2 separate regions of the Homo sapiens genome follow, and region 2 is linked to region 1. The links come from fine-mapping of genetic effects on gene expression. A gene starts in region 1. The other region holds a variant in brackets. All regions are shown on one strand. Distances are from middle to middle.

Region 1 (16,377 bases):
TTCAAGGAAGGTGGCGCTCTCCTGGATGTAGGCCCCCAGCTGCTCAAAAATGCCATTGATCTTCTTCTTGGCAGTGACAAAGTGCTTAAGTGGGGATGCATTCACCTCAGCCATGTGTCTCTTATTTTTCTTGACTGTGACGATAGAGTTGCATCGAGAGAAGAGCAGGGACATTGCGCTGCAAGAGAAGCTAACGTGAGCGAACCCAGCAACACCTACCTCGGGACATCCTGCTAGGGAGATGGCGGAATGCTTTGGGGAGAATCAAGAATATGGGGATCTCAGGTCACTGCAACCTCCAGGACTAGAACAAAGGACGGTGAGATAAGAACAGTGTCTCAGGCTGGGCGCGGTGGCTCACCCCTGTAATCTCAGAACTTTGGGAGGTTGAGGCAGGTGGATCACCTGAGGTCAGGAGTTCAAGACCAGCCTGGCCAACATGGTGAAACCCCCGTCTCTACTAAAAATACAGTAATTAGCCAGACCCAATGGCACACACCTGTAATCCCAGCTACTTGGGAGGCTGAGACAGGAGAATCACTTGAACCTGGGAGATGGAGGCTGCAATGAACCAAGATCATGCCATTGTACTCCAGCCTGGGTGACAGGGCGAGATTTTGTCTCAAAAAATAAAACAAAATTAGCATGACACAGTGGCATGCATCTGCAGTCCTAGCTACTTGGGAGTCTGAGGTGGGAGGGTCACTTGAGCCCAGGAGTTTCGGCTGCAGTGACCTATGATCAGTCCACTGCACTCTAGCCTGGGAGACAGAGCAAGACCACATAAAAACACTATTGGTTAGGGGCCAGGTTCAGTGGCTCATACCTATAATCCCAGCACTTTGAGAGGCCAAGGCAGGCAGATCACTTGAACTTTGGAGTTCGAGACAAGCCTAGGCAATGTAGGACCCCGTCTCTATTTAAAAAAAAAAAAAAAAACAGCCAGGCATGGTGGGTTATGCCTGTAATCCCAGCACTCTGGGAGGCTGAGGCAAGTGGATCACAAGGTCAGGAGTTCAAGACCAGCCTGGCCAACATGATGAAACCCCGTCTCTACTAAAAATACAAAAAAATATAGCCGGGTGTGGTGGTGGCCGCCTATAATCCCAGCTACTTGGGAGGCTGAGGCAGAGAATTGCTTGAACCTGGGAGGCGGAGGTTGCAGTGAGCCGAGATCGCACCACTGTACTCCAGCCTGGGTGACAGAGCCAGACCAAGTCTCAACAAAGAAAAACACACACACACACACACACACACAAAAACTATTGGTCTATTTTAGTATAGCACAGGTGTGCTACAGAAAATTTGGAAACTGAAGGGGAAAAAAACCCATAACCCCATCATTTTGTGATAAGCAATGTTAACATTTTATTTACTTATTTATTTTTTATTTTGAGACAAGATCTCGCTGTTACCTGGGCTGGAGTGCAGTGGCGCAATCACAGCTCACTGCAGCCTCAACCTCTTGGGTCCAAGCAATCCTCCCACCTCAGCCTCCTGAGTACATGAGACCACAGGCATGCACCACCACGCCCCACTAATTTTTTTAAAATTTTTTGTAGAGACAGGGTCTTCTTATGTTGCCCAGGCTGCTCCCAAACTCTTGGGCTCCAATGATCCTCTCACTTTGGATTCCCAAAGTGTTGGGATTAAAGTGCTGGGATTAAAGGCGTGAGCCACCATGCCCAGCCAACATTTTTTTTTTTTTTTTCTGAGACAGAGTCTTGCTCTATCGCTCAGGCTGGAGTGCTGTGGCATGATCTCGGCTCACTGCAACCACCACCTCCCGAGTTCAAGCTATTCTCCTGCCTCAGCCTCCCAAGCAACTGGGACTACAGGCACTCGCCACCATGCCCGGCTAATTTTTGTATTTTCAGTAGAGGTGGGGTTTCACCATGTTGGCCAGGTAGGTCTTGAACTCCTGACCTCAAATGATCCACCCACCTTGTCCTCCGAAAGTGCTGGGATTACAGGCATGAGCCACCACGCCCGGCCCAACATTTTGTTTATTATAATTTTTTTTTTTTTTTTGAGACAGAGTCTCACTTTTGTCACCCAGGCTGGGTGCAGTGGTGCAATCTCAGCTCACTACAACCTCCACCTCCCAGGTTCAAGCGATCCTCCTGCCTCACTCAGCCTCCTGAGTAGCTTGGAGTACGGGCATGTACCACCACACCCAGCTAATTTTTTTATTTTTCGTAGACAGGGCTTCACCATGTTGGCCAGGCTGGTCTCAAACTCCTGACCTCAAGTGATCCATCTGCTTCGGCCTCCCGAAGTGCTGGGAATACAGGCGTGAGCCACCGTACCCAGCCATATTATCACAGTCTATTTTTGTGTGACTGTCTCTCTTGCTCTCACTCAATCCTACATATCTTTGTAGCTTATCTTTTCATATAACAACATTTTAGAGGTCATGAGACTTGACTCCAAAGTCCTAGAGGTCTTTGGTCAAAGGTCAAAAGAGGCTGGGCATGGTGGCTCACACCTATAATCCCTGCACTTTGGGAGGCCCAGGCGGGTGGATCACTTGAGACCAGCCTGGCCAACATGGTGAAACCCCTTCTCTGCTAAAAATACAAAAATTAGCCAGGCATGGTGGCAGGCACCTGTAATCCCAGCTACTCGGGAGGCTGAGGCACGAGAATTGCTTGAACCTGGGAGCTGGAAGTTGCAGTGAGCTAAGATCGCGCCATTGCACTCCAGCCTGAGCAATAGAGCAAGACTCCATCTCAAAAAAAAAAAAAAAAAGATCAAAAAGAGGCGTACACACCAGAAGGAGTGCCCAGGGTAAGACTGGGAATTCCGACCCCAAAAGTGGACCCCTGCCAGGTCCCTCAGAGTTCCCACCACGGCGAAAGCTACTTCTTGAGCAGAGCCCACCAATCCCAGGAAGTCAAAGGGCAAAGGCCCTCCTGGATGAGGGGGTGTGTGCACAGCTGACTGTGCCTGGGTCTGTCACTGCCTCCCCAGCCACCCTAATCTTACTGCTCAGTTCTCCACCCAGCAGTAAGCTCACTCTCTCTAGATTGGAAATGAGGTGTTGCTCCCCAGCAAGCACACGTGAAAAACTTCCAAATGGGGCCAAAGTATGTTGCACAAGGTCCTGAAAAGCAGAAAGAACACCCGGAAGAGGTACATGAAGACCAAATGCCAAAACGGACTTTTAGTAACTAACCATCCCAAAGAGTGGGCAGAAGACAGACCGACCCAAAGCGGGATAGGGACCCACATGTGTGCCCAAACCAACAAGTTCTTGTGCAATGTTAATGATTCCTCTGGAGACAAGGGAAGGAAGTGACCCCACTTCCGTTTCTACATTCCTCCTCAGCATGACGCCACAGCTATGAGAGATGTTTTCTCAGCATGGAAGCCATATGTCCAGGGCTTAAAGACAGTACAGCTCTGAGAAAGGAAACTGCAAAGAAAATGCTACTCTCACTCTTCCAAAGCAGCAAAGGAGAGTGCGCTGAAATGAGGCTTGCCATGGCCTGGCAGATCAGACTGTTCGAGAAAGAGGGGATGTGGCAGGCACAAGAGGAAAGCCATCCAAAAGGAATAGAAAAGGGATCAGGGGTCAGGCACGGTGGCTCATGCCTGTAATCCCAGCACTTTGGGAGGCCGAGGCAGGCAGCTCACCTGAGGTCAGGAGTTCAAGACCAGTCTAGCCAACATGGTGAAACCCCGTCTCTATGAAAAATACAAAAAATTAGCTGGGTGTGGTGGCGCATGCCTGTAGTCCCAGCTACTCCAGAGGCCAAGGCAGGAGAATCACTTGAACCTGGGAGGTAGAATTTGCAGTGAGCCAAGATCTCGCCACTGTACTCCAGCCTGGGTGACAGAGCGAAGTCTCTCTCTTTAAAAAAAAAAAAAAAAAAAAAAAAAAAGGGATCAAGGATGGGGCATGATATAGCACTACCTATGACAGGTTTTGTAATCAGGCAGAGCTGGGTTCAAATTGTGACTACATTATTTCTGGGCTGCTTAAACTTAAGCAAGTTATTTCATCACAGAACCTTGGTTTCTTCATGTGTACAACAAACAAGACACCTACTGGAGAGAGAAACTGTCTCAAATTATCTTTTTTCTCTACTCTCACACCATAATCATCAACACAAGAGACTTCTGTGACCAAATGTGAGGGGGTTTCTTCCCCACACACCAACCAGCGGACAGCAGCTGGGTATCCTCTCATTCAGTTCCCATGCTGTCTACCTGGAGAGAGTGTCAGATCCCACAGGTTGAGGGCTCAGTCCCCAGGACTGCCCCGCCTCTCCACCACCACCCCTCAAACATACCAGTTGCAAGTCTGGGCCTCCAGAATTTCTCACCGACTGGCTTCAGGCTGGGGTTCCCATGACCCCCTCTTTGAGTTCAATTAATTTGATGGAGCAGCCTACCTAGCCCAGGGAAACACTTACTTACGTTTACCAGGTTATTATGAGGGATATCGCAAAGGATACAGATAAGGAGACGCTTAGGGCGAGGTATGGGGGAAGAGGCGTGTAGTTTCTGTGCCCTCCCTGAGCAGGCCTCTCTCTAGGAACCTCCGTGTGTTCAGCTATCCACAAGCTCCCTGAACTCTGTCCTCTTGGATTTTTATGGAAGCTTCATGACATCAGCATTCCTTCCCCCAGGATACAGGGTCCACCCCTCTCAGGGGAGGGTTTTAAGGCCCACAATCAGGTGGGGAAAGATTAGGGTGGAAGGAGAGCAGAAGGTCAGAGGCCTGCCCCTGAGGCCTAACACATCTAACATTATATCAAAAAACCATAACAAGGGCTGTGGATAGGAGTTATGAGCCTGGATCCGTGGATGAAAACCAATATCCTAATACCACAATACCATCTAAACTGTGAGAAGACTAAAGTTGATGACGCAAGCAACATGCTTCACTACAGTAAGAGCTAAAGGCAGCTTTACATGTTATAAAACAATAACAACAAACTCTACCAGCAAGATCACAAGACTCTCTCCATGAACACCCAGCCTTCAGGGAGGGCAGAGGCAACTCCGCCAACTCACACCACACACACCACTCCCTTACCCGCTATCACGGAGATCAAATAAACAGGTCAGCTGGGGAAGGATCAGCGATACCCCACTCCAGAAGTGACTTGCTGCAGGAAGCAAGTTCCCTGCCATCAGAAGCAGGTGCTTTTAAGTTCTGGTCAATGTTTGCAAGCCCAGGAGATATAAAACCAAAAGCATTAGTGCTCACTAACTGCAAGACTCGACAGCGTGTACACCAGTAGAAGCTTGGGAGCTCCAGGTTACAAGGTCTGCTGGGAGTTCAGCCGGTCCAGGAGCCTCCCTGCTCTCACTAATACCCAGCCTGCAGCTGCATCCAAACCCCTGGCGTAAAACCTACTGTCAACCCCTCCAAACTCTGCCTGATTTATCTGGCTCTGCTAACTTGCAAGCTGAGATTCCACATCTGTGTTGCATGAGCTGCTTTCTGCCTGGAATCCTCCTTCCTTTTCCACCCATTTGGCATACTCCTACTGTCCTTCTAGACCCAACTCAAGTGTCACCCGCTCCATGAAGCCTCCTCTGATGCCTCATAGAGAACAAACAACATCACAGACTTCTGGTTTTTATCACATCCTGTGTTCCCCAATTATCTCAAGGCTTTGACTGCTGACTCCCTACTCCTCCAGGGTGATGCAGGGCAGCTGGGTTCCTCCTCTGCCTCTGGAAAGCCTTGATAATCTCTGCTTCACCACAGACCTTGCCACAGGCACGTGGGGACCATCCTGCAAGCATAGCCTGAGAGCCCAGCTCCAACATCAGTGACACACTAAGCGTCACACTTCAAGCTGTGACTGCCTCATAAGTGCTCTGGAGATTACTGTTTTGGATAGTTTCTGGCAGCACTTCCCAAAGCGTGGTCCACAGAACTCGACTTGCACCCAATATCCCATGTAAAGAAGGTTCAATAGTAGAATCAGTTTGTAAAACACCATATGCTAGGCCAGGCGCGGTGGCTCACGCCTGTAATCCCAGCACTCTGGGAGGCCGAGGTGGGTAGATCACAAGGTCAGGAGTTCGAGACCATCCTGGCTAACACGGTGAAACCCCATCTCTACTAAAACTACAAAAAATTAGCCAGGCATGGCAGCATGCACCTGTAGTACAGCTACTCGGGAGGCTGAGGCAGGAGGATAGTGTGAACCTGGGAGGCAGAGCTTGCAGTGAGCCAAGATCACGCCACTGCAAGATCGCGCCACTGCACTCCAGCCTGGGTGACAGAGCAAGACTCTGTCTCAAAAAAAACAAAAAACAAACAAACAAACAAAAAACACCATATGCTACCATTTTCCTCAGTGGAGCACGTGAGCACAGCAAAAGAGTTTGGGAAGGAAGCCTTGTTGTAAAGACACTAGTTTAACTGTGTTGAATTCAGCATTTCACAAATATAATCAATGAAAAAACCCTTCTGTGTAATAGCTTTTAAAATCCCGAGGATCACACTTTAGGGAAAAGCCCACTCTTTCTGGTACTCTCCTGCCCCTACCCCTAAAAAGTGCCAGGGCACAGTATTAATAAATATTAACCTAAGACCAGAAATGAACCCAGTTCTAAATGGAAACTGCTATTAGCCCTCCAAGGTGGTCAACAGCTTTGCCTCAACCTAGGCTATTCGTTGAGGAGTATTAGGTATCTTGGGTGTAGAGACAGCAGTAGCAAAATTCACTGCAAGGTGTGTTTGGATCCCAAGCACAGTCCCTGAATCCACACCACCTCCTTACCCAGTGTTATGTACAGCAACTCCTAGCAGGGAAAATAAAATGGATCCACGGATCGTCTGCTGGCACAACTGGAAAAGAGGAGAAGCTGAGAAATCGAAACAAAAAGAGTATACAGGGTAAAGGGGACAGAGCAGAGTCTTAAAAGAGCAGTGACAAGGAGCCAACCTGTGCTGGGCCGAGATGGGGAAGAGCCAGCACAGCAGAGACCAAATGAGGGAGACAGAGACTAACTCTTCAGGGAGCCCAAGAGATCCCAGCCACTTCTGAACTGTCAACTTTTAAACAGGCTCTCTAAGCAACCAGCGAAATCCTTCACGGAAGTAAAAGATACGGTAGTTTTTCAACACAAGTTAGAAAGCTGTGGCTCTATACAAAGAGGATGCCATTCAAGAGACTTGCCACCAGAGGTCCAGGAGAGCACACCCCTGTCCACTCAGCTCAAATCCAGGGTGCCAGAAGTCACAGCTACTACTTACTTTTTTGGATGGTGAGAGATCTTCACAGGGTAGGCATCATGGACATGGCTGAAGTCCAAAAGACAAAAAGATTCTGAGTTCTCTTCTGTCCTGTCTCAGGTTGAGGTTGGCTATTGATTGACTGTGTTGACTCCACCAGTCCTGACTTATTAGAAAAGAAAAGGGAGATGGATCCGGTGTCCAAAAAAAAAAAACACTGGTGTACAAAACATGTCTAATCAGGTTTCAAGCCAAACAAACTCATCCCTGAGGGAAGCTTACTCATTGAGGTATTGGGGAGTTGCGCTGGCATGTGAGGAAGTGCCCTGGGGAAAAAAACGCAGAGGTGTGGGACCAATCCTGACTGTGCACACGTATTCCGCCATGTGCGGGTTTGAGGCACCACGGAGGTCCCTGCAGGAGCCCTGGGAAAGGTACATCCAGAGAGGGGAGAAGAGGACAGAGCAAAACTAGGAACAAAACTGGGCTTGAGGACTGTGGAACAGCTGACTATTGAGGAACAGAAGAACTGACTGAAAGCCAATGTGTTCAGCTACTGTAAAGTATCTCACTTAATTCTCTATTCTGTGGGACAGAGGGCTGGAATACTTGAAGATTTGTCTAAGCTGGGATCTGAAATATTAGCTCCCTTTGACTCCAAAGCTCCTGGAGTGCAGCAGCGCGATCTCGGCTCAACCTCCGCCTCCCGGGTTCAAGCGATTCTCCTGCCTCAGCCTCCTGAGTAGATGGGATTACAGGCGTGTGCCAGCAAGCCCGGCTAGTTTTTGGTTTTAGCACAGACGGGGTTTCACCATGTTGGCCAGGCTGGTCTCCAACTCCTGACCTCAGGTGATCCGCCCGCCTCAGCCTCCCAAAGTGCTGGGATTACAGGTGTGATCCACTGCGACCGGCCTCCTTCCTTTTTTAACTACATTGAGCTGCCTTCCTCCCCCAAGCCCCAAACCTTGGGACACCAGAGGCGGATAACCAGAGCCCTTTTCTGGGTAGAAAAGAGATAACCAGAGCCCTTTTCTGGGTAGAAGAGAGAGAGATGATTGAGAATTTAAAGAGGGCAATGAAGGATTACGAGAGGGGGTAACGGGCAGTTCTGCCTTCGTGCGTCTTAACAGCTATTTATTCAACATTTTCTGTGTGCCTTCTCTGTGTGTGTCAGGCGCCACGTTAGAAATGGATAAGAAACAGTCCTGCCCTCCAGGGCCTTACAGTCCGGTGAGAAGTCATATAAGTAAACAGGGCTGAACGAGAAGGCAGTAACTGCCCAAAGTGGGGATGGCAGGGCGCTCCCGCGGTGAACGTGGACACCTATCAGGTGCTGAGTAAATGCTGGCAAAATGAAGACAGGATGAAAAATAGAGAAGGGGCAGGGGTAGAACATGGCCGTGAAGGGTGGAAAGGCGGGGGCGATGAGAAGCTACAGGGGACCCCACCGACCAGTCCCAGGTCCCGTGGCCCGCCCCCTCCTCTCAGGGCCGGGGAGGGCCCGGCGGCGAGGCCGGAGAGTGGGGACCCCGCTTGACTGCATCCCAGACCCCCGTGGCCCCAGAATCCCGTCGGCCCACGCCGAGCTGCTCAGGACTCGCCGGGCCGGGCCGGGCCAGTCCCCGCCACCCCGGCTTGCTCGCCCTCTCACCTTCACCTTCCCGGCCTCGCGGCGGCCATCACACTCACTACGTCACCAGCGAGCGCCACCCCAGGGGGAGGCGGGAGGAGGGAAGTGGATAAGCGCGTCACCAGTCGCCTCAGATTGCCCCTCGACCCGGGTGAGCTGGTGGACCCTGAGCCCAGCCGGCTCGCCCCGCCTACTCCTTACGCCTCTGCTGCCCCGCGACTCGGCGCTTCGAGCGGCGTCTCAGCGCGCCACTCCTCCGCGCGCCACTCCTCCGCCGGCGCGTCCCAAGCGGACGACGCAGAGGCTCGGACTCCCACTGCATCATGGGGGCTGTAGTTCCGGTGGGCGTCGGCCGGAGCTGGGGGGGCGGGGCAAAGCGGGGCGGAGCCTCAAGCTGTCAAGGGGCGAAAAACCAAGGGCGTGGAGTAGAGGTTCCCGCTTTTTCGCCGGTTGTCCTAGAGCCTGACCCTGGGGCCTCTGCCAGCTCTGGAATCCAGATTTGCATTCTGTAATCTTAGAGGAGTGTTCTCTAGAGGGCCAGGCCTAGGGTGAAGTGACTCATCGGGCAGACAGAAGCGAGCATGGGCCTGCTGCCCTTCAGTCGCCTTTGAGGAAAGAAGAGCAGCAACAACGGCGAATCAATGCCAGTGACTGAACTGCGTCTCTAACATCCACCGCTGTATTTAACGTCCACAGCAGTCCCAGGAGAGGGAGAGGAGAGGTTACCCAAGCTCACATGGTTACCCAGATCACCGGGCCCCAGTGATGCGGCAGACACTACTAGGAAACCGCAGCAAACAGATCCCTTGCAGGACTTGGCCTCCGCAGAGAAGGCTCCAAGCCTGAGCGCGCCAGAACAGTAGGCACTAGCCACGTGTGGCTCTCGAGTCCTGAGCCAGTGCAAACGGAGATGCGCTATAAGACTTAGGACAAAAAAGGCTGTTAAACTATCTCAATTTTTAGGAAAAAAAAATATCGACCGGGCGCGGTGGCTCAAGCCTGTAATTCCAGCATTTTAGGAGGGCGAGGCGGGTGCATCGGGAGTTCAAGACCAGCCTGGCCAACATGGTGAAACCCCGTCTGTACTAAAAATACAAAAATTAGCCAGGCATGATAGTGCACTCGGGAGGAAGAGGCAGGAGAATCGCTTGAACACGGGCGGTGGAGGTTGCAGTGAGCCGAGATCATGCCACTGCACTCCAGCCTGGGCAACAGAGACTCCGTCTCAAAAAAGAAAAAAAAAATCTATCTTTGAGCCAGAGTCTCACTCTCACTCAAGCTGGAGTGCAGTGGTGCAATCACGGCTCACTGCAGCCTCGAACTCCTGGGCTCAAGTAATCCTCCCACCTCACTCAGCCTCCCAAGTAGCTGACCACAGATGCTGCAGCCATGCCTAGTATTTATCTTTTGTAGACATGGGGAAGCATTTCACTTTGTTACCCAGGCTGGTGTCCTGAACTCCTGGACTCCTGGAGTCAAGCAATCTTCTCCTGCCTCGGCTTCCCAAAATGCCGGGTTACAGGTACCTGCCACAGTGCAGGGCTATTAGCCCATTACTATTTATATGCTGACTACATGTTGAAGTGATAATATTTTGGGTCATTTGGGTTAAATACATTACTAAGATTAATTGCACCTGTTTCTTTTTAAAAATGTCGCTACTAGAAAATTTAAAATTACATAAGTAGCTTGCATTTGTGGGTCAAACTGTAATTCTGTGGGATGGTGCTGCTCTATAACCATGGTAGAACAACCTCAATTTATTGCCACAAACAACCTCAAGAGGCAAATCAGTACTCTGATATAGAAGTGACTGGTTTATCAGTCTCATGACGATGGCCAAAGGGAGCTGTCCTGCCCACACTGCCCTCTGAGTAGCCTAGTGCCCCGCGGGTCTGACTGTGGACTGTGGGGCCACACGCAGACTCAGCCTCAGGGTGTAGACAGGGCCCTGTCTGGGATGTAGCGTGCCTTGGGGCCTCAGCTGCTAGCTGCCTGGTACTGGGTCGGATTGTTTCCTCCTCCACAATCTCTGGACTCCCTAAGGAGAGGAACTCTAAATTCCACTTCCATTCTCTGAGGGCAGGAACTATAAATTCCATTTCCTCTTTTTTTTTTTTTTTCTTTTTTTTTGAGAAAGAGTCTCGCTCTCACTCTGTTGCCCAGACTGGAGCTCAGTGGCACCATCTTGGCTCACCGCAACCTCCGCCTCAGGCAATTCTCCCGCCTCAGTCTCCCCACTAGCTGGGATTACAGGCGTGCACCACCATGCCTGGCTAATTTTTGTATTTTTAGTAGAGATGGGGTTTCACCATGTTGGCCAGGCTGGTCTCAAACTCCTGACCTCAGGTGATCCACCCGCCTCAGCCTCCCAAAGTGCTGGGATTACAGGTGTGAGCCACCACGCCCAGCCTTCCTTTTCCTTTTTAGCAGAATCTTGCCCGTCAGGTGAAAGCCTGGATGTTCTCTCTCCTAAACATCTCCCCTGCCCACTCCCTCCTCTTCCCTAAATTTCCCTGCAAGCATTGGTCTAGGTCCTGGTCACTTGCCTGGACTGCTGTAGGAACCTCTGAATCCATTCCCAGGCATTTAGTCTTGTACTCTGCCCAGCAGCTGGGCTTTATCTCTGAAACACATCTGCATACTTGCCCAGCAAGTAGAGGAAATCTCAGTTTGGAGATATGTTTCAACCCATTAACATGTGTTTCTCATTGAGATGGCTGAATCCTCGTTTCAACCCTCGGGATGACAAAACTCTCCTAGCAGTGCTGAGTGTTATTGGGAATGGGTGCAGAGCACACTGATGTACAACTCCAGGAGACCTTTCTTTCTTACGTTTTTGTTTTTTTTTTTAAGACAAGAGTCTTGCTCTCTCACCCAGGCTGGAGTGCAGTGGCACAATCTCAACTCACTACAACCTCTGCCTCCCGGGTTCAAGCGATTCTCGTGCTGCAGCCTCCTGAGTAGTTGGGTTTACAGGCATGTGCCATAAAGCCCACCTTATTTTTGTATTTTTAATAGAGACAGGGTTTTGCCATGTTGGCCATGCTGGTTGAGAATTCCTGGCCTCAAGTGATCCTACCACCTCAGCCTCCCAAAGCGCTGGGATTACAGGCATGAGCCACTGCACCCGGTCCATATTACTTTTTGTTGTTGTTGTTGTTGACAGGTTATTGCTCTGTCACCCACGCTGGAGTGTAGTGGTGCAATCTTGGCTCACTGCAACCTCCACCTCCCAGGTTCAAGTGATTCTCCCAGCTCAGCCTCCCAAGTAGCTGGGATTACAGGCACCTGCCACCACACCTGGCTAATTTTTGTATTTTTTTGTAGAGATGGGGGTTTTGCCATGTTGGCCAGGCTGGTCTCAAACTCTTGACCACAAGTGATCCACCCGCCTCAGCCTCCCAAAGTACTGGGATTACAGATGTGAGCCACAGCATCCGGCCCCCCATGTTACCTATTTTGTTTGACTTTTTCATGGTGAAGATGAGTTTGTAATCAGAAAAAAGTTAACAGTTAAAAACAACCCTATGCCGGGCACAGTGGCTCACACCTGTAATGCCAGCACTTTGGGAGGCCGAGGCAGGTGGATCATCTGAGGTCAGGAGTTGGAGACCACCGTGGCCAACATGGTGAAACCTCATATCTACTAAAAATACAAAAACTAGCTGGGCGTGGTGGCGGGTGCCTGTAATCCCAGCTACTCGGGAAGCTGAGGCACGAGAATTGCTTGAACCCGGGAGGCAGAGGTTGCAGTGAGCCGAGATCATGCCATTGCACTCCAGCCTGGGCGACAGAGTGAGACTCCATCTCAAAAACAAAAACAAAAATAACCCTAACATACACAAACACACACACAGGCTTGTGTCGGCACAAACCAGCTCAAGAACGTTCAAAAAACAGATTAGACATGGTGGCTTTCAGAGAGAGGAACTGAGCAGCTGGGGGGAAAGGATGACAGAAAGATTAAGATTTGTGCTGTTTGAATTTACAATGAGTCAATTTTGAAAATGAAAAGACTAAAAAATCTTTTTTTTTTTTTAATTGAGATGGAGTCTTGCTCTGTCACCCAGACTGGAGTGCAGTGGCCCAATCTTGGCTCATTGCAACCTCCACCACCTGGGTTCAAGCGATTCTCCTGCCTCAGCCTCCCGAGTAGCTGGGATTACAGGCGCATGCCAACACAACCGGCTGATTTTTTCATATTATTAGTAGAGACAGGGTTTCGCCACGTTGCCCAGGCTGGTCTCAAACTCCTGACCTCAGGTAATCCGCCTGCCTCAGCCTAAGTGCTGGGATTACAGGTGTGAGCCACTGTGCCTGGCCTCAAAAATCTTTTTTAAAAGACTTTCAGGCCTGGGATGGTGGCTCACGCCTGTAATCCAGTACTTTGGGAGGCCGAGGCGGATGGATCACCTGAGGTCAGGAGTTCGAGACCAGCCTGGCCAACACGGTGAAATGAAACCCCGTTTCTACAAAAAATACAAAAATGTGTCAGGCATGGATACCTATAATCCCAGCTACTCAGGGGTCGAGAGGCTAGCATGACCTTTCTTAAAGGCTCTAAAAAGAGGGCTCTTGGCCGGGCACGGTGGCTCATGCCTGTAATCCCAGCACTTTGGGAGGCCGAGGTGGGTGGATCATCTGAGGTCAGGAGTTCAAGACCAGCCAGACCAACCTGGTGAAACCCTTTCTTTAATAAAAAAACAAAAATTAGCCAGGCGTGGTGATGGGTGCCTGTAGCCCCAGCTGCTCGGAAGGCTGAGGCAGGAGAATTACTTGAACCCAGGAGGCGGGGGTTGCAGAAAGCGGGGATAGCGTCATTGCACTCCAGCCTGGAAGACAGAGTGAGACTCTGTCTCAAAAAAAGAAAAAAAAAAAAAAAGAGGGCTCTTAAAACCTCTCTCCCTGCAGACACTCACACCAAGACACACACACACCCACTCGCCCTGAGCATCTTCCCTTCAGTGGTTTAAATGACCTTTAATAGAAACTCTCCAGTTTCTGACGGTCTGTCCCTCTCTTCAGAGGCATCCAGGACAGGGTGACCCAGTGTGGTGTGTGGACCTGTCACTCCCCTCCCCACAGGCAAGTAGAAGATCGAGCTGTGCACAGATGCCTCTTCTGTCTCCCAAGAGGTTCTCTGGAGTCGCTGTCTCCAGGGGACTACGGTTTGCTCTCATGACCAGCCATGGAGGCAGAAGTCCCAGACTCAGGGCAGCCCTTGGAGTCTGATCCAGGTGTCTTTACCCCAAAACTTGAAGCAGAAGTCCCTGGTGCAACACCTGTGCCTGGGAGAAGCTCTGGCCATGGCTTCTCACCCAGACAGTCTTTCTGGGCAACTTGGGGAAGCCCCTGTTCTGCTCAAGTCTCACCCCATGGAAGAGGTGGGGGAAGGGGGCCTTGGTTTTTCAGGAAGACAGGTTGGAGAGCACGAGTCACTACAAAGCAGTAAAAGTGAATGGTGTCTCCAGGGGCTGGGTCCAGAACACCACGGAGAGCCCCAGCCATAAAGGTGTGTTCCGCCTCTGGCCTGCAGGAATCTCTTTGAATCTCTTTGATTGGTGGCTCCAAGAGCAATGGGAAGTCAACAGCCAGGAGGCTGGACTGGGTTCCCTGGGACCCCGAGGTCCCAGAGGCTGCTGGGCAGTGGTTGTCGGCAAAGAAGAAAGGTCCAAGAGGGTCAGGCCTGGCCAATTAGGGATCGACGAAGGAGACTGCGATGTAGCGGGTGCCCCTGGTGGTGGGGAGCCCCTCATGGTAATGCGTGAGTCGTCCAGGGTGCATGAGGGTCCAGCCCTTCCTTGGGGCTCGGATGGAACAGTTGTAGCGCAGGAACCGACAGCCCCCGCCCTGGGAGACAGAAAGCATCAGTGGCCTTTCCCCACCGCCCCCCTGCCCGTCTGTTCTCCCGTCATGATCTCCTGTCATGGCCAAGTGGCCCTCAGCACTGCCTGCCTGGGGATGCCTTCTGGAGTGACAGCCACAAGCGCTGCTAAGGAAGACACTAAATGAAGAGTAGTGGCCAGGAGTGGTGGCTCACGCCTGTAATCCCAGCACTTTGGCAGGCCAAGGCGGGTGGACCACCTGAGGTCAGGAGTTCAAGACCAGCATGGCCAACATGGTGAGACCCCATCTCTACTAAAAATACAAAAACCAGCTGGGTGTAGCAGCGCACGCCTGTAATCCCAGCTATTCGGGAAGCTGAGACAGAATCACTTGAACCCAGGAGGCAGTGAGCCGAGATCGCGCCACTGTACTCCAGCCTGGGCAACAGAATGAGACTGTCTCAAAAAAAAAAAAACCCAAAGAGTAAGTGATCAAGAGCTCTGTCCTTGGAGTCAGGCAGCCCTGGGCAGACATCACCTCCACTCTTTACTAACTGTGACCAACCTGAGCTTCAGTTTCCCCTTCTGTAAAATGAGGGTTAAACAGAACAGGATAGTGAGAATTAAATGAGATGTTACAATTGAGAGCTGAGGATCAAGCTTCCCAACCTCACCACTATAGACACTTTGCTGTGGAAGGCTGTCCCGGGCATCTCTGACTTCTACCCACTAGATGCCAGTAGCCCCTCATAGTTGTAAAAACCAATTATGTCTCCAGGTACTGCCAATGTCCCTTGCAGGCCACAGTTGCTCCTGGTTGAGAATCCTTGGATTAGGGATGCCTGATATGTTTGTTGTAAGCTCTCAAAAAATTATAGCTCCAGCCTGGGCAACATAGTGAAACCCCATCTCTAAAAGCAAGAAAAAAAATTAGCTGGCCATGGTGGCACACGCCTGTGGTCCCAACTACTTGGGGGGGCTGAGGTGGGAGGATTGCTTGGGCCCAGGAGGTTGAGGCTGCAGTGAACTGTGATCATGCCACTACACTCCAGCCTGGGTGACAGAGCAAGACCCTGTCTCGAAAAAGAAAAAAAAAAGGATTATAGCTGTTTTTATGAGTGTTCTCCACAGCACCCAGCCCAGGGCTAAGTTCAAAAAACCTCTTTTTGTTTTTTTTGGAGACAGAGTCTCGCTCTGTTGCCCAGGCTGGAGTGCAGTGGCATGATCTCAGCTCACTGCAACCTCCACCTCTTGGGTTCAAGAGATTCTCATGCCTCAGCCTTCTGGGTAGCTAAGATTACAGGTGTGTGCTACCACGCCCAGCTAATTTTTCTATTTTTAGTGGAAATGGGGTTTCGCCATGTTGGCCAGGCTGGTCTCAAACTCCTGGCCCCAAGTGATCTGCCTGCCTTGGCCTCCCAAACTGCTGGGATTGCAGGCATCAGCCACCATGCCGAGCCCAAAAATCTCTTAAAATAGTAGCTTAAGAGCCTGGCCCCTCCTCCTGCTAGACTGTGAACCCTTCCAGGAAGCCCTCCCACAGACCCACATCCTTTTTTTTCTGGTTCTCTGGCACTGGTTACCTGGGGCCCCTCTGCCTCAACCACCCTGAAGCCTCTCCTCAGCTAGCCCTCCTCATCCCCATTGCCGGCCCCTTGACCCCGGCTGGCTCCTGCTCACCTCGTAATCCACCCCGACTCGGTTCAGGGCGA
Region 2 (11,491 bases), 35 kb before region 1:
GCCTGAAGGTCAGGTAGCCCCTTCCTCTGGGGTTCCCAAGGCGGGCACGCACCTCCGAGGCTGCCCTGGCCACTGACCGCCGCACAGCATCCTGCCCCACCCACAGCTGCCTCAGGAGCTCCAGATTGAGCAGCCGCAGCTGTGCCAGTTCCTCAGCCTCCACCATCCTGGGCCTCTCTCAGCAGGTGTCACTTGCCCCTGGGCCGCAGGATGTCCTCAGGGCTGGGTTCCAGGCCCAGCTCTTCTACCTGAAGTCAAGACAGCAGGACACGGGGCTCAGTAGGGTGCCCTGTGGTGCCAGAGACCCCCATTCGACACTCTTTAACTGTACTGCCTCAGGCAAGTTATTTAACTTCTCTGTGCCTCAGTTTCCTCATCTGCTGGACGACAACAGTATCTACCTCATACGATTGTTGTTAGAATTAAAGAAAGCATGTTAAGCCTGGACAACATTTGTAGAAACATTTTTTTTTGTTTTGTTTTTTTGTTTTTTTTTTTTGAGATGGAGTCTTGCTCTGTCGCCCAGGCTGGAGTGCAGTGGCGCAATCTCGGCTCACTGCAAGCTCCGCCTCCCGGGTTCACGCCATTCTCCTGCCTCAGCCTCCTGAGTAGCTGGGACTACAGGCGCCTGCCACCACGCCCAGCTAATTTTTTGTATTTTTAGTAGAGACGGGGTTTCACCGTGTTAGCCAGGATGGTCTCGATCTCATGACCTTGTGATCCGCCTGCCTCGGTCTCCCAAAGTGCTGGGATTACAGGCATGAGCTACAGTGCCTGGCCAAAAAAAAATTTAATTAGCTGGCCATGGTGGCACTTGTCTGTGGCCCCAGCTACTCAGGAGGATAGCTTTAGCCCAGGAGACCCAGGCTGCAGTGAGCCATGGTTGCATCACTGTAAAAAAAACAAAAAACAGGCCAAGTGGCTCACGTCTGTAATCCCAGCACTTTGGGAGGCTGAGGCAGGAGGATCACCTGAGGTCAGGAGTTTGAGATGAGCCTAGCCAACGTGGCGAGAGACCTCGTCGCTACTAAAAATGCAAAAATTAGCCGGGCGTGGTGGCACGCGCCTGTAATCCCAGCTACTCGGGAGGCTGAGGCAGGAGAATCACCTGAACCCGGGAGGCAGAGGTTGCGGTGAGCCGAGATCGCACCATTGCGCTCCAGCCTGGGCGACAGGGTGAGACTCCGTCTCAAAAACAGCAACAACAACAAACAATTAGCCGGGTGTGGTGGTGGGCGCCAGTAATCCCAGCTACTCAGGAGGCTGCTGAGGCAGGAGAATCGCTTGAACCTGGGAGGCGGAGGTTGTAGTGAGTGGAGATCACACTACTGCACTCCAGCCTGGGTGACAGAGCAAGACTGTCACACACACACACAAAATACAAAAAACAAAGCACTCAGTACAGTGCTTACTTAATACAGTGCTTACAGTGGTATACAGTAAGCATTCAATAAACGTCTATTATTACCAAAATGGCTGGGGCAAGGGCATGCTTCCTTTTTTTCTTGGCTCACTGCAACCTCCGCCTCCTGGGCAGTGGTTTGGACAAGCTTGCTTTATAACTGGTGAGTCCAACACAAATCAGGCTTCAAAAGGGATTCTTCCTCCTTTCCTGCCCTCCCTTCCTCCTTCACTTTCTTTTTACATATGAAGAAACCAAAGCTCAGGGAAGTTAAGCAACTTGCCCCAAGTCACACAGCTAGCAAGAGGCTAGATCTGAACCAAAATTTGACTCCAGGGTCCATGAGTTCAGGGTTCTTGGAAAGCCTTTCCCTGGAAGTGTGGGGGAGCCTGGGAAAACTCCGCCTCCTCCTCCCAGCCCTTGCCCCCCACCTCCAAGGATCCTCAGGATCGGGTGCAAGGTCTGGAGCACAGAGTAGCCGACTACCCCGGAACCTCCCCCACACACGTATATTACCCCGCAGGGCCGGGGGGCACGGAGATGCAGTCCAGAGGGGCCAACTGTTTGATCCGCAGGACAAAGATCCCGGCCCCCACCCCTAACTGGCCAAGTGGCTCTGGGCCACACCCCTATAGTCAGAGGGTCGCCGTTTTCGCACGGGGTCAAAGGGCACAGCAGGCCTTGCCCTCCCCTGGCCCCGGCCGCGCTTTGGAAAGGGAAAAGCTGAGCGGAGACACCGGGAAAGCGACGCTCCAGAAACACCGGGGCCGCAGAAGTAACAGAGGGCGAGCGGGCGGACGCCGAGGCGGGACCCCCGCAGAGGCAGATGCAGCCTACCCTTCTTTTCCACTGCGGCCCCCGAGCCCCTCGCGGGAATGCACGTGGGGCCTCCTGCCGAGCCCTTCCGCCCCACCCCAGTCCTGCCGCCCAGCACTCACCCGGCAGAATCCCCTAGCATGCGCCGCCGTAGCAGCCGCAGCCGCCTGAGCCGTTCCAGGGGCCTCGGCCGGCCGTCTTGATTGGTCAGGTGAGGGGCAGGGCCGGGACGTCTGGTGAGCGTTACTCGGCGATCCGAAGTGTCAGTTTCAGCGTGGGGGCGGGACTAAGAGCGGAGCTACACAACCGATTGGTCAATTTTCGAGGCCGGTGCGGAGGTCGATTCCTGGAATGGGGCGGGCCCCGGAAGGGCGAGCTCCGATTGGTCAGCTGCGGGACTGGATACGCTGAGTTCAGCAGCGGCAGTTTCAGTCAGGCTGGGCGGCCTAGGCTCGGCGCAGGCGGCAGTCCGGAGCGGCGGGGTAGGTGGGGCAGGCGGCTGGCTACTCATTGTACTCATCGTTTCATACTTTTCTTTTTTTTTTTTTTTTTGGAGACGGAGTCTCACTCTGTTGCCCAGGCTGGAGTGCAGTGGCGCGATCTCGGCTCACCACAATCTCTGCCTCCCGAGTTCAAGCGATTGATTCTCCTGCCTCAGCCTCCCGAGTAGCTGGGACTACAGGCGAGCGCCACCATGCCCGGCTTTTTTTTTTTTTTTTTTTTTTTTTTTTTTTTTTTTTGTATTTTTAGTAGAGACAGGGTTTCACTATGTTGGCCAGGCTGGTCTCGAACTCCTGACCTCGTGATCCGCCCGCCCCGGCCTCCCAAAATGCTGGGATTACAGGCATGAGCCACTGCGCCCGGCCTGCTTTATACTTTCATTCAGGTTTTTAGCGAGTGCCCGCTTTGCGCCAGAAGATAAGGACTACACAGTAAACAAGAAAGTGTAGTATTGGGGCCGGCCGCGGTTGCTCACGCCAGTAAACCTAAAAATACAAAAATTAGCCGGGCGAGGTGGCCGGCGCCTGTAATCCCAGCTACTAGGGAGGCTGAGGCAGGAGAATCGCTTGAACCCAGCTACTAGGGAGGCAGAGATTGCAGTGAACCGAGATCGCGCCACTGCACTCCAGCCTGGATGACAGAGCAAGACGCAAGACTCCATCTCAAAAAAGAAAAAAAAAAAAAAGATACCCAGCCTGGGCAACATGGCAAAACCCCGTCTCTACAAAAAATGAGCCAGGCACGTACCTGTAGTCCAGCTACTCGGGAGGCTGAGATGGGAGGATCACCTGAGTCCAAGAGGCTGAGGCTGTGGTGAGCTTTGATTGCACCACTGCACTCCACCCTGACTGAGAGACCCTGTCTCAATAAATAAATTAATTTAAAAAAGAAAGAAAGTGTGGTATTGGCGTCCAGGTAGACAAATGGATCAATGCAACAGAATAGAGTTCCGATATGTGAGCAATTAATTTTTGACAAAAATGAAAGTGCAATTCAGTGGAGAAAGGATAATGCCTTCGGCCCGGGGCGGTGGCTCACGCCTGTAATCCCAGCGCTTTGGGATGCCGAGGTGGGCAGATGGCTTGAGGTAAGGAGTTACAGCCCAGCGACACCCAGCACCCCCCCCAAAAAAATTTATTTTATCAATAATGTGTGTGGAAACTTGGGAAAACAAGAAGAGATGGTGTCTTCAACAAATGTTGTAGGTATAATTGGATATCCACACACTCATCCTAAAAAAAAAAAAAAGAAACCCATATGCAAAAATTAACCTAGAATGGATCATAGATCTAGTTGTGAAACCTAAACTATATAACTTAGAAAAACTGGGGCCGGGCGCAGTGGCCCACGCCTGTAATCCCAGCACTTTGGGAGGCCGAGGCGGGTGGATCACCTGAGGTCAGGAGTTCAAGATCAGCTTGGGCAACATGGCGAAACCCCGTCTCTACTAAAAATACAAAAATTGGCTGGGCGCGGTGGCTTACGTCTGTAATCCCAGCACTTTGGGAGGTCCAGGCAGGCGGATCACCTGAGGTCGGGAGTTCCAGACCAGCCTGACCAACATGGAGAAACCCCGTCTCTACTAAAAATACAAAATTAGCCGGGCATGGTGGCGCATACCTGTAATCCCAGCTGCTCGGGAGGCTGAGGCAGGAGAATCGCTTGAACCCGGGAGGCGGAGGTCGTGGTGAGCCAAAATCGCACCATTGCACTCCAGCCTGGGCAACAAGAGTGAAACTCTGTCTCAAATTAAAAAAAAAAAAAAAAAAGAATGAAAAGAAGATAGGTAGCCCCTCTACCTCCAGAAGAGCCGAGGGTGATAACACCAGGCACCGAGCTAGCAGGAAGCCCTCCGACTCAAGAAGATGGCTGATCCTTGGCAGGAATGCATGGATTATGCAGTAACTCTAGCAAGATGAGCTGGAGAGGTAGTTTGTGATGCTCTAAAAAATGAAATGAGGCCGGGCACGACGTCTCAGGCCTGTAATCCCAGCACTTTGGGAGGCCAAGGCGGGCGGATCAGTTGAGGTCAGGAATTTGAAACCAGCCTGGCTAACATGGTGAAACCCCGTCTCTATTAAAAATAGAAAAAAATTAGCCGGGTGTGGTGGTGGGCACCTGTAATCCCAGCTACTCGAGAGGCTGAGGCAGGAGAATGGCTTGAACCTGGGAGGCGGAGGTTGCAGTGAGCCGCGATTGTGCCACGGCACTCCAGCCTGGGTGACAGAGTAAGACTGTCTCAAAAAAAAAAAAAAAAAAAACTATATATATATATGAACCCACATTCACTACTGGTGGGGATATAAGACAGTATAACCACTTCACAAAATCTGTAGAAGTTAAACATAAATTTACCATATGGCCCAGCAAGTCCAGCCTGAGATATCTACCTACAAAAAATGAAAACATCTGCCTACACAGAGATTTGAACACTAATGTTCCTAGCAGAAATACGCATAATGTTGTCTAGAAGATCACCAGGGTGGCTAAATAGTAGAAAGGAGCACTTTATTGTTGATACTTGTTTGCAAACCAGGAAGAGATGGTTTGCAGCATGCACTGAAGGTGCTCTCTTCCAAGAGAGAAAGGACAGGTTGGGTTTTATGCCTCACAGGGCCCATATTCATACATATTTAGCAGGTTTGAGGGAAAAGCTGTATACATATTTATGAGAGGAGGTGAGCTCATGTGCATTGGCTAAACAGGTTGTTCACAGCTTCTGTAAGCTGGCTGAAACTGGCTTAAGTTCTGCAGTTGCTTATCAGAAAAGAATGTTTATTGGCTGGGTGTGATGGCTCATGCCTGTAGTTCCGGCACTCTGGGAGGCTGGGGCAGGAGGATCACTTGAGCTTGGGAATTAGAGGCCAGCCTGGGCAACACAGTAAGATCCCATCTATTTTTTTTTTTTTTTTTTGAGACGGGGTCTCATTCTGTTGCCTAGGTTGGAGTGCAGTGATGCAATCTCGGCTCACTGCAGCCTCCACCTCCTGGGTTCAAGTGATTCTCCTACCTCAGCCCCCGGAATAGCTGGGACTACCAGTGCACACCACCATGCTGGGCTAATTTTTGTATTTTTTGTAGAGACAGGGTTTTGCCAGATTGCCCAGGCTGGTCTCAAACTCATGAATTCAAGCGATCCTCTCACCTCAGCCTCCCAAAGTGCTGGGATTACAGGCATGAGGCACTGTGCCCAGCCAACATACATTCTCTATTTGAAAAATTAAATTAAAAAAAGAAAAAGAATATTTGTGTCCAGACATGGTGGCTCACACCTATAATCCCAGCACTTTGGGAGGCCAAGGTGTGAGGATCATTTGAGATCAGGAGTTCGAAACCAGCCTGAGTAACATAGTGAGATCCCTCGTCTCTACAAAAAAACAAAAAATTATCCGGGCATGGTGGCGCACACTTTTAATCCCAGCTATTCGGGAGGCTAAGGTGAGAGGATCACTTGAGTCTGGGAGGTCAAGTCTGCAGTGAGCCGTGATTGCGCCACTGCACTCCAGCCAACAAAAACCTACCTCAAAAAAAAAAAAAAAGTTTGTCAGACCGGTCCCCTGTGTAATCAGAGGCATAAGGGTTTGGTTTGTAAATCAAGACTTGAGATAATTTGCCTGATGGCTCCTGATGTTAGGGAGTTTAGCGAGTATGTTGTTTTTCTTTGTAACTGAAAAAGGTTACTAATCAGTGAGTGAGATTTTTGTTGTTGTTGTTGTTGTTTTGAGAGGGAGCCTCCCTCTGTTGCCAGGCTGGAGCGCAATGGCGTGATCTCGGCTCATTGCAACCCCCACCTCCCAGGTTTAAGCAATTCTCCTGCCTCAGCCACCCTAGTATCTGGGATTACAGGTGCACGCCACCAAGCCTGGCTAATTTTTGTATTTCTAGTAGAGATGGGGTTTCACCATGTTGGCCAGGCTGGTCTTGAACTCCTGACCTCGTGATCCGCCCACCTCCCAAAAGTGTTGGGATTACAGGCGTGAGCCATCGCGTCTGGCCCCAGGGGCAGATTTTTATCCACCTTAGTCACTGCTATATCTCCAGTGCTTAGAACCATGCTTAGCACATAGTAAGTGCACAAATATTTTGCTGAATTAATGAACTTCCTCATTTGAGGAAATTAGGGAAAATAGACCATTGGATTTTGAGATTAGGGCTCATGCGTATGAA[AT/T]GTCTGACATACTAAACTCTCAAAGTTCGCTGTTCTTATCTCAAGCCTAAGAGTCCCACTTAGACACAGGAAACCATCCACTTGAGGACACGGTGAACAACTTAGCTGACATCTGCGAGGAGGGCCCTGCTTCTGAGGCCACATTATGAAGCCAGATGCTCTCCGAGAGAGCTGCCTGGGCTGTCACCCCAGTGCTTGGGACACAGTGGAACATTCCTGACTACCTACTTTTTGTGATTAAATAGGGACATTGTTACCAGAGGGCTAAAACTTCCAGCCTCTCAGATTCGCCAGTGGACAGATGAGGTAGTCAGAGAAAGCACAGGAATGAGGCTGGCCTTGACTGGGAATAACTAAGCAGCATTTGCATAAGGCAAGAAGGCCCTTTTTCAAACTATGGCTCATCACCCGGGATGATGCTGTCGTGAACAATTTAGTGGGTTGTACATAACATCTTGTTAATGACAGAAACTACTTGTTTTGTGGATTGCAAAAAAAAAAAAGGTAATGATTCATTTTTTTTTTGTTACCTGAGAAAGTCTTTGGCTGCTGCCTTGAAACAGCCACAAGATGGCGAGGATAGGCGGGGACAAGGCAGGAACAGGAACCTAGATCCGGGCTGATGGTTATGATGGAGGTGAGGAAACTGGGCAGGGTCAACAGACTTGGAAGACAGCAGGTGACAGATTTGGTGCAGCACGTGTGACCGTGGACTCGAGGGTGATGCCCCAAGTGTGTAGCCTGGGAATCTGGAAGGATGAGGTTGCTATCAGCTGAGCTGTGGCCTCTGTGGGCGAGCAGGGCGGACACTGGGCAGCACCAGAGCCAAGAGGACAGCTGTAGGGGCGGGGAAACTGACTGACTACCCCTGTATCTACTCCTGAGGACCCTTAAAAAAAAAAAGAAAAAAAAGCGGTGGCTCACACCTGTAATGCCAGCACTTTGGGAGACCGAGGCAGGTGGGTCACAAGGTCAGGAGTTTGAGACCAGTATGGCCAAGATGATGAAACCCTGTCTCTACTAAAATACCAAAATTAGCCAGGCCTGGTGGTCGGCGCCTGTAATCCCAGCTGCTTGGGAGGCTGAGGCAGAGAACTGCTTGAACCCGGGAGGCGGAGCTTGCAGCGAGCCGAGATCGTGCCACTGCACTCCAGCCTGGGCGACAGAGCGTGACTCCATCTCAAAAAAGAAAAAAAAAAAAAAGAATAGTGGCAACCAAATTCTCAGAAGGCAAAGCAGGATGGAACAGTGAGTCATTTACTTTTTAAGTGAAAAATGGTCTGGAGTTACAGAGAAATCTGTAAAGAAATCAGTCTCGATTTCCTGATCCTTAAAGATCAGTTAAACCATCTGTTCTTTTGAGAGTATCAAATTCCTTCCAAGAATAAGGAGCCAGATTATAGTGGGAACTTCCCCAAAGTTATGGTCACTTCAGAATACAGCTGGCCATGTCAAAGAGGAGTTTGTACAAGAACCCAAAAAGACAGATCTCACAAAGGATTTCCAACTAGGTTTTATTTTAGTTTCCAATATTATGAGCAATGATACAGGAGTAACTCAAGCAAATACATCACCTTAAATACATCAGAGAAAACTCACTGTGTCAGCACGTCTTGCGCTCCAGCAAATGAACATAAAAACAACAATGTCAGCAGCATTAAAGTGCTTTTGGCCATACTTCTTTCAGAAAGGGTCTCTCCCTCAGTGGTATAAATTTAATTTTACGTATTGAAGAAGCTCAAAATTTCATTCATTCCCCAGGGGCTACATTGAAAAAAAATTCATGTTTACGCTAAAGAATTTTTTTTTTTCAAAAAGAGCACAAAATCCATTGGAATTGTGTGACAGTGATTTTCCCTGACATGCTGTGAAGTGGCCCCTGTCCATTCAGGCCCGGCACACGCCGGGAACATCCACCCACAGCATGTCCACCTGGCAGAGTCCATCACTTCGCCCCACACAACAGGACAGACTGAGGGCTTTAAATACAAGCAGGTATGTGAACAGGACATCACCTGTGATGTGGCCACCAAACAGTGCACAGAGGCTACCAACTCATTTCCTCAAAGATGAGTGATGGCTGGGCTGCTGGGCCCCTGCCTTGTGGGCTGCTTTTTGGGAGAGGTGTTGCTTATTTCTAGGAAGCGATCCAACTTGTGCCACACAGGATTTGTCACCCAAACTGCTTTTCTCACACAGTCAACACCTTGGTGACAGGCATCTGCCCCCACTTCAACCAGTAACAATCCCAAAACTCAACATCAGCATAAAGACAAGGGGGTCAGTCGAAGGTTCTGGAGATCAGGGAGGGTGGAAAGATGGACACTGGGTTTTCCACATTGTCCCTTGGCCAACTGCAGTCACTGGCACAGGAAATTTAGTCCAGGGCACTTGGGACAAGGTTGGGGGTGGGGTGGAAACATGTCTCTTAAAGGGCACAACAGGGATGCAATCAAGCCTAGTGGGTGGGGGCTCTCAGACCCATGAGCCCCTCGCAGAACGAGGCCAAGTGGACGGCCCATTCTCCAGCTGTCCTGTGTGGGGCCCATGCACCTCAGCCAGCCACCAACGTCCCCACCTTCCACCATCCATCCTTCTACTACATCCTTCAACCACCTAGACCATGCCATCTTCCAAAACAGATCTACACAAAACAGGCCTGCACAAGTCCAGGACTGACACTAAAGCAAAGGACACAATAATGAGAAGAGAGGCAAGTCCCTCCTTGTCCCAGTGACTGCCACCTGCTCTGCCAGCTCCCCATACATCCAACAGCCCTCCCCTCTGAGCTACTCCCACTCCTCCAGCTGCCTCAGCAGCATCCTTTCTACCACCCCCAGCACAGGGCCCGCCTCAGCCTAAGCCCAGGGGTAACTGAGCCTCACCACCAAGACGTGTCTGAGGCTCTGCAAATGGGATGAAGCACTGAGCCAACAGGCGAGATGGACACACACAAGCCACAGTCCTTCTGGGACAGACTCTCTGGGAAGAAACTCCAATCGTCCCTTACACCTGCAGGTGTGCTGGGCTGCAAGGAGGGCAGGTGCGCACAGGCTGGAGGAAGGTGGGGGTGTCTGTGTGATACCCTCAAAGGCTTCCATGAGGCATTGTGCAATGCTGAGATCCTGAGGCCTTATCAAGCAATCAAATGAACCAGAGAAAGCTGGAAAAAGCCTCAACTTAACTCCTTGGTACCATGCTGTCCATAGCTGTCGCTGAAAGTGTCCTTTGGGGGTATGAGCCAGCTCTTCCAGCAACAGCAGGCAAAGGTGGGGGAAAATAAGTAGTGCTGGAGGGCTCAAAATGGTACGAGACTGGGTGCTTCATTCTCTTGGCAGTGGCCAGGGGGCAGGAGCCACACGTGCCCCTGGGGGAGCCCACATGGCACTTAGGGCTGGCAGCACCGCCCCTCTCCACGCAGACTCCGCCTCAGGTGCCCACTATCTGCTGGGCTGCAGGTACTGGTGTGTGAACATGTTGAGCTCACTGTCCAACCAACCGGCTTTATTCCTGCAAAGAAATGGTTCTTTTGTAACCATGATAGCTGATGATAGGCAGTATTAGGACTACCCGCCAGGCACCATCCTAAGGACGCTTGACACACACCCTTACATCATCCTCCAACAATCGTGTTTATCCCTGTCTCACAGATGGGGAAAAGGAGGCCCAGAGGGGTTAAATAACTTCCCAAGGCCACACGGCTAATAAGCCAGGGAGCTACAAGTTAGGCTTTTCTGATTCTCAAGCCCTGTGTTTCCTTCACCCAGGACCATGTGCAAGTCCCTGAGCTGTCGGGAACTCAGTTTCCCTGCTTGCCAAGCAAGGGGTTGAGGTGCTGACAGGAGACCCTTTCCAGGTTCAGCTGTGTCACTGTGGCTGACAAGCAGCAGTTCCCCCCATTCCCCCTTTCTGAGAGTCCCCAGAGGGCAAGCAGTGTGTCCCTAGGAAGCAGCTGTCCCCAGGTGGGGGTGCGGGGGGGGCACATCCGCAGTCGAGGGCAGGGAAAGCCCAGTGATCCGGTGAGGGTTGGAGCTGACACCCTCTGATCCATCTCCCCTCTGGCTCTGCCACCCTGCAGACTCTGACGTCAGGGGCGAGGGCAGGAAGTGCAGGGTCCCCGTGTGCTGATGCTATCATGGGCTAGGCAGGCCGAGGACTTCTGCAGGGTCCCCGTGTGCTGATGTTATCATGAGCTGGGCAGGCCGAGGACTTTTGCAGGGCACTTTTACATTCAGTCATGCAGCTGTGTCATGAAATCTTACTCCCATTTTACAGATGAAAATAATGAGACACAGGAGAGTTAAGAGCTTGGGCCAAACATGAGTGGCTGGAGAGAACCCAGGACTCCAGACTCCTCAGACTGATGTTCTTTCCAGCAAATTATTAATGAAAGCTCCACAGAGACCCCATGGAGATCTGAGTTCCAATCCCAGCTCTGCCAGTCCCCAGCCAAGTAACCAGCTTCTCTGTGGGTAAATGGGGGGCTATGCCCTCTTCATGGGTCCAAAGAGTGGCAGGTAAGGAGAATCAGAGTGCGGGGGCTGCTGGAGCCAAGTACACCTGGGCTCCCCTCCTAGCCTGGCCATTTTTTGAGATGCCAGACA

Evidence for each region.
Region 2: its variant is fine-mapped to the expression of MFN2 in whole blood (INTERVAL, PIP 0.91).

What each region holds. Positions count from the first base shown.
Region 1 is chr1:11,972,966-11,989,342 of GRCh38, reverse strand. MFN2 (mitofusin 2) reads right to left here and starts at 8,899. Exons shown (of 19, transcript NM_014874.4): 1 at 8,859-8,899; 2 at 7,229-7,373; 3 at 1-178. The coding sequence starts at 174. It overlaps PLOD1 (procollagen-lysine,2-oxoglutarate 5-dioxygenase 1), which reads right to left. Exons shown (of 19, transcript NM_000302.4): 18 at 16,346-16,377; 19 at 13,806-14,690. The coding sequence ends at 14,535. RefSeq lists an enhancer at 7,058-7,157 and silencers at 8,614-8,853, 9,024-9,283.
Region 2 is chr1:12,010,402-12,021,892 of GRCh38, reverse strand. It overlaps MFN2 (mitofusin 2), which reads right to left. Exons shown (of 19, transcript NM_014874.4): 19 at 8,385-10,397. The coding sequence ends at 10,328. MIIP (migration and invasion inhibitory protein) reads right to left here and starts at 2,395. Exons shown (of 10, transcript NM_021933.4): 1 at 2,341-2,395; 2 at 53-248. The coding sequence starts at 166. RefSeq lists enhancers at 867-1,737, 2,486-2,565, 1,738-2,608, 2,686-2,735. The variant AT/T (reference allele first, on the strand shown) is at 6,887.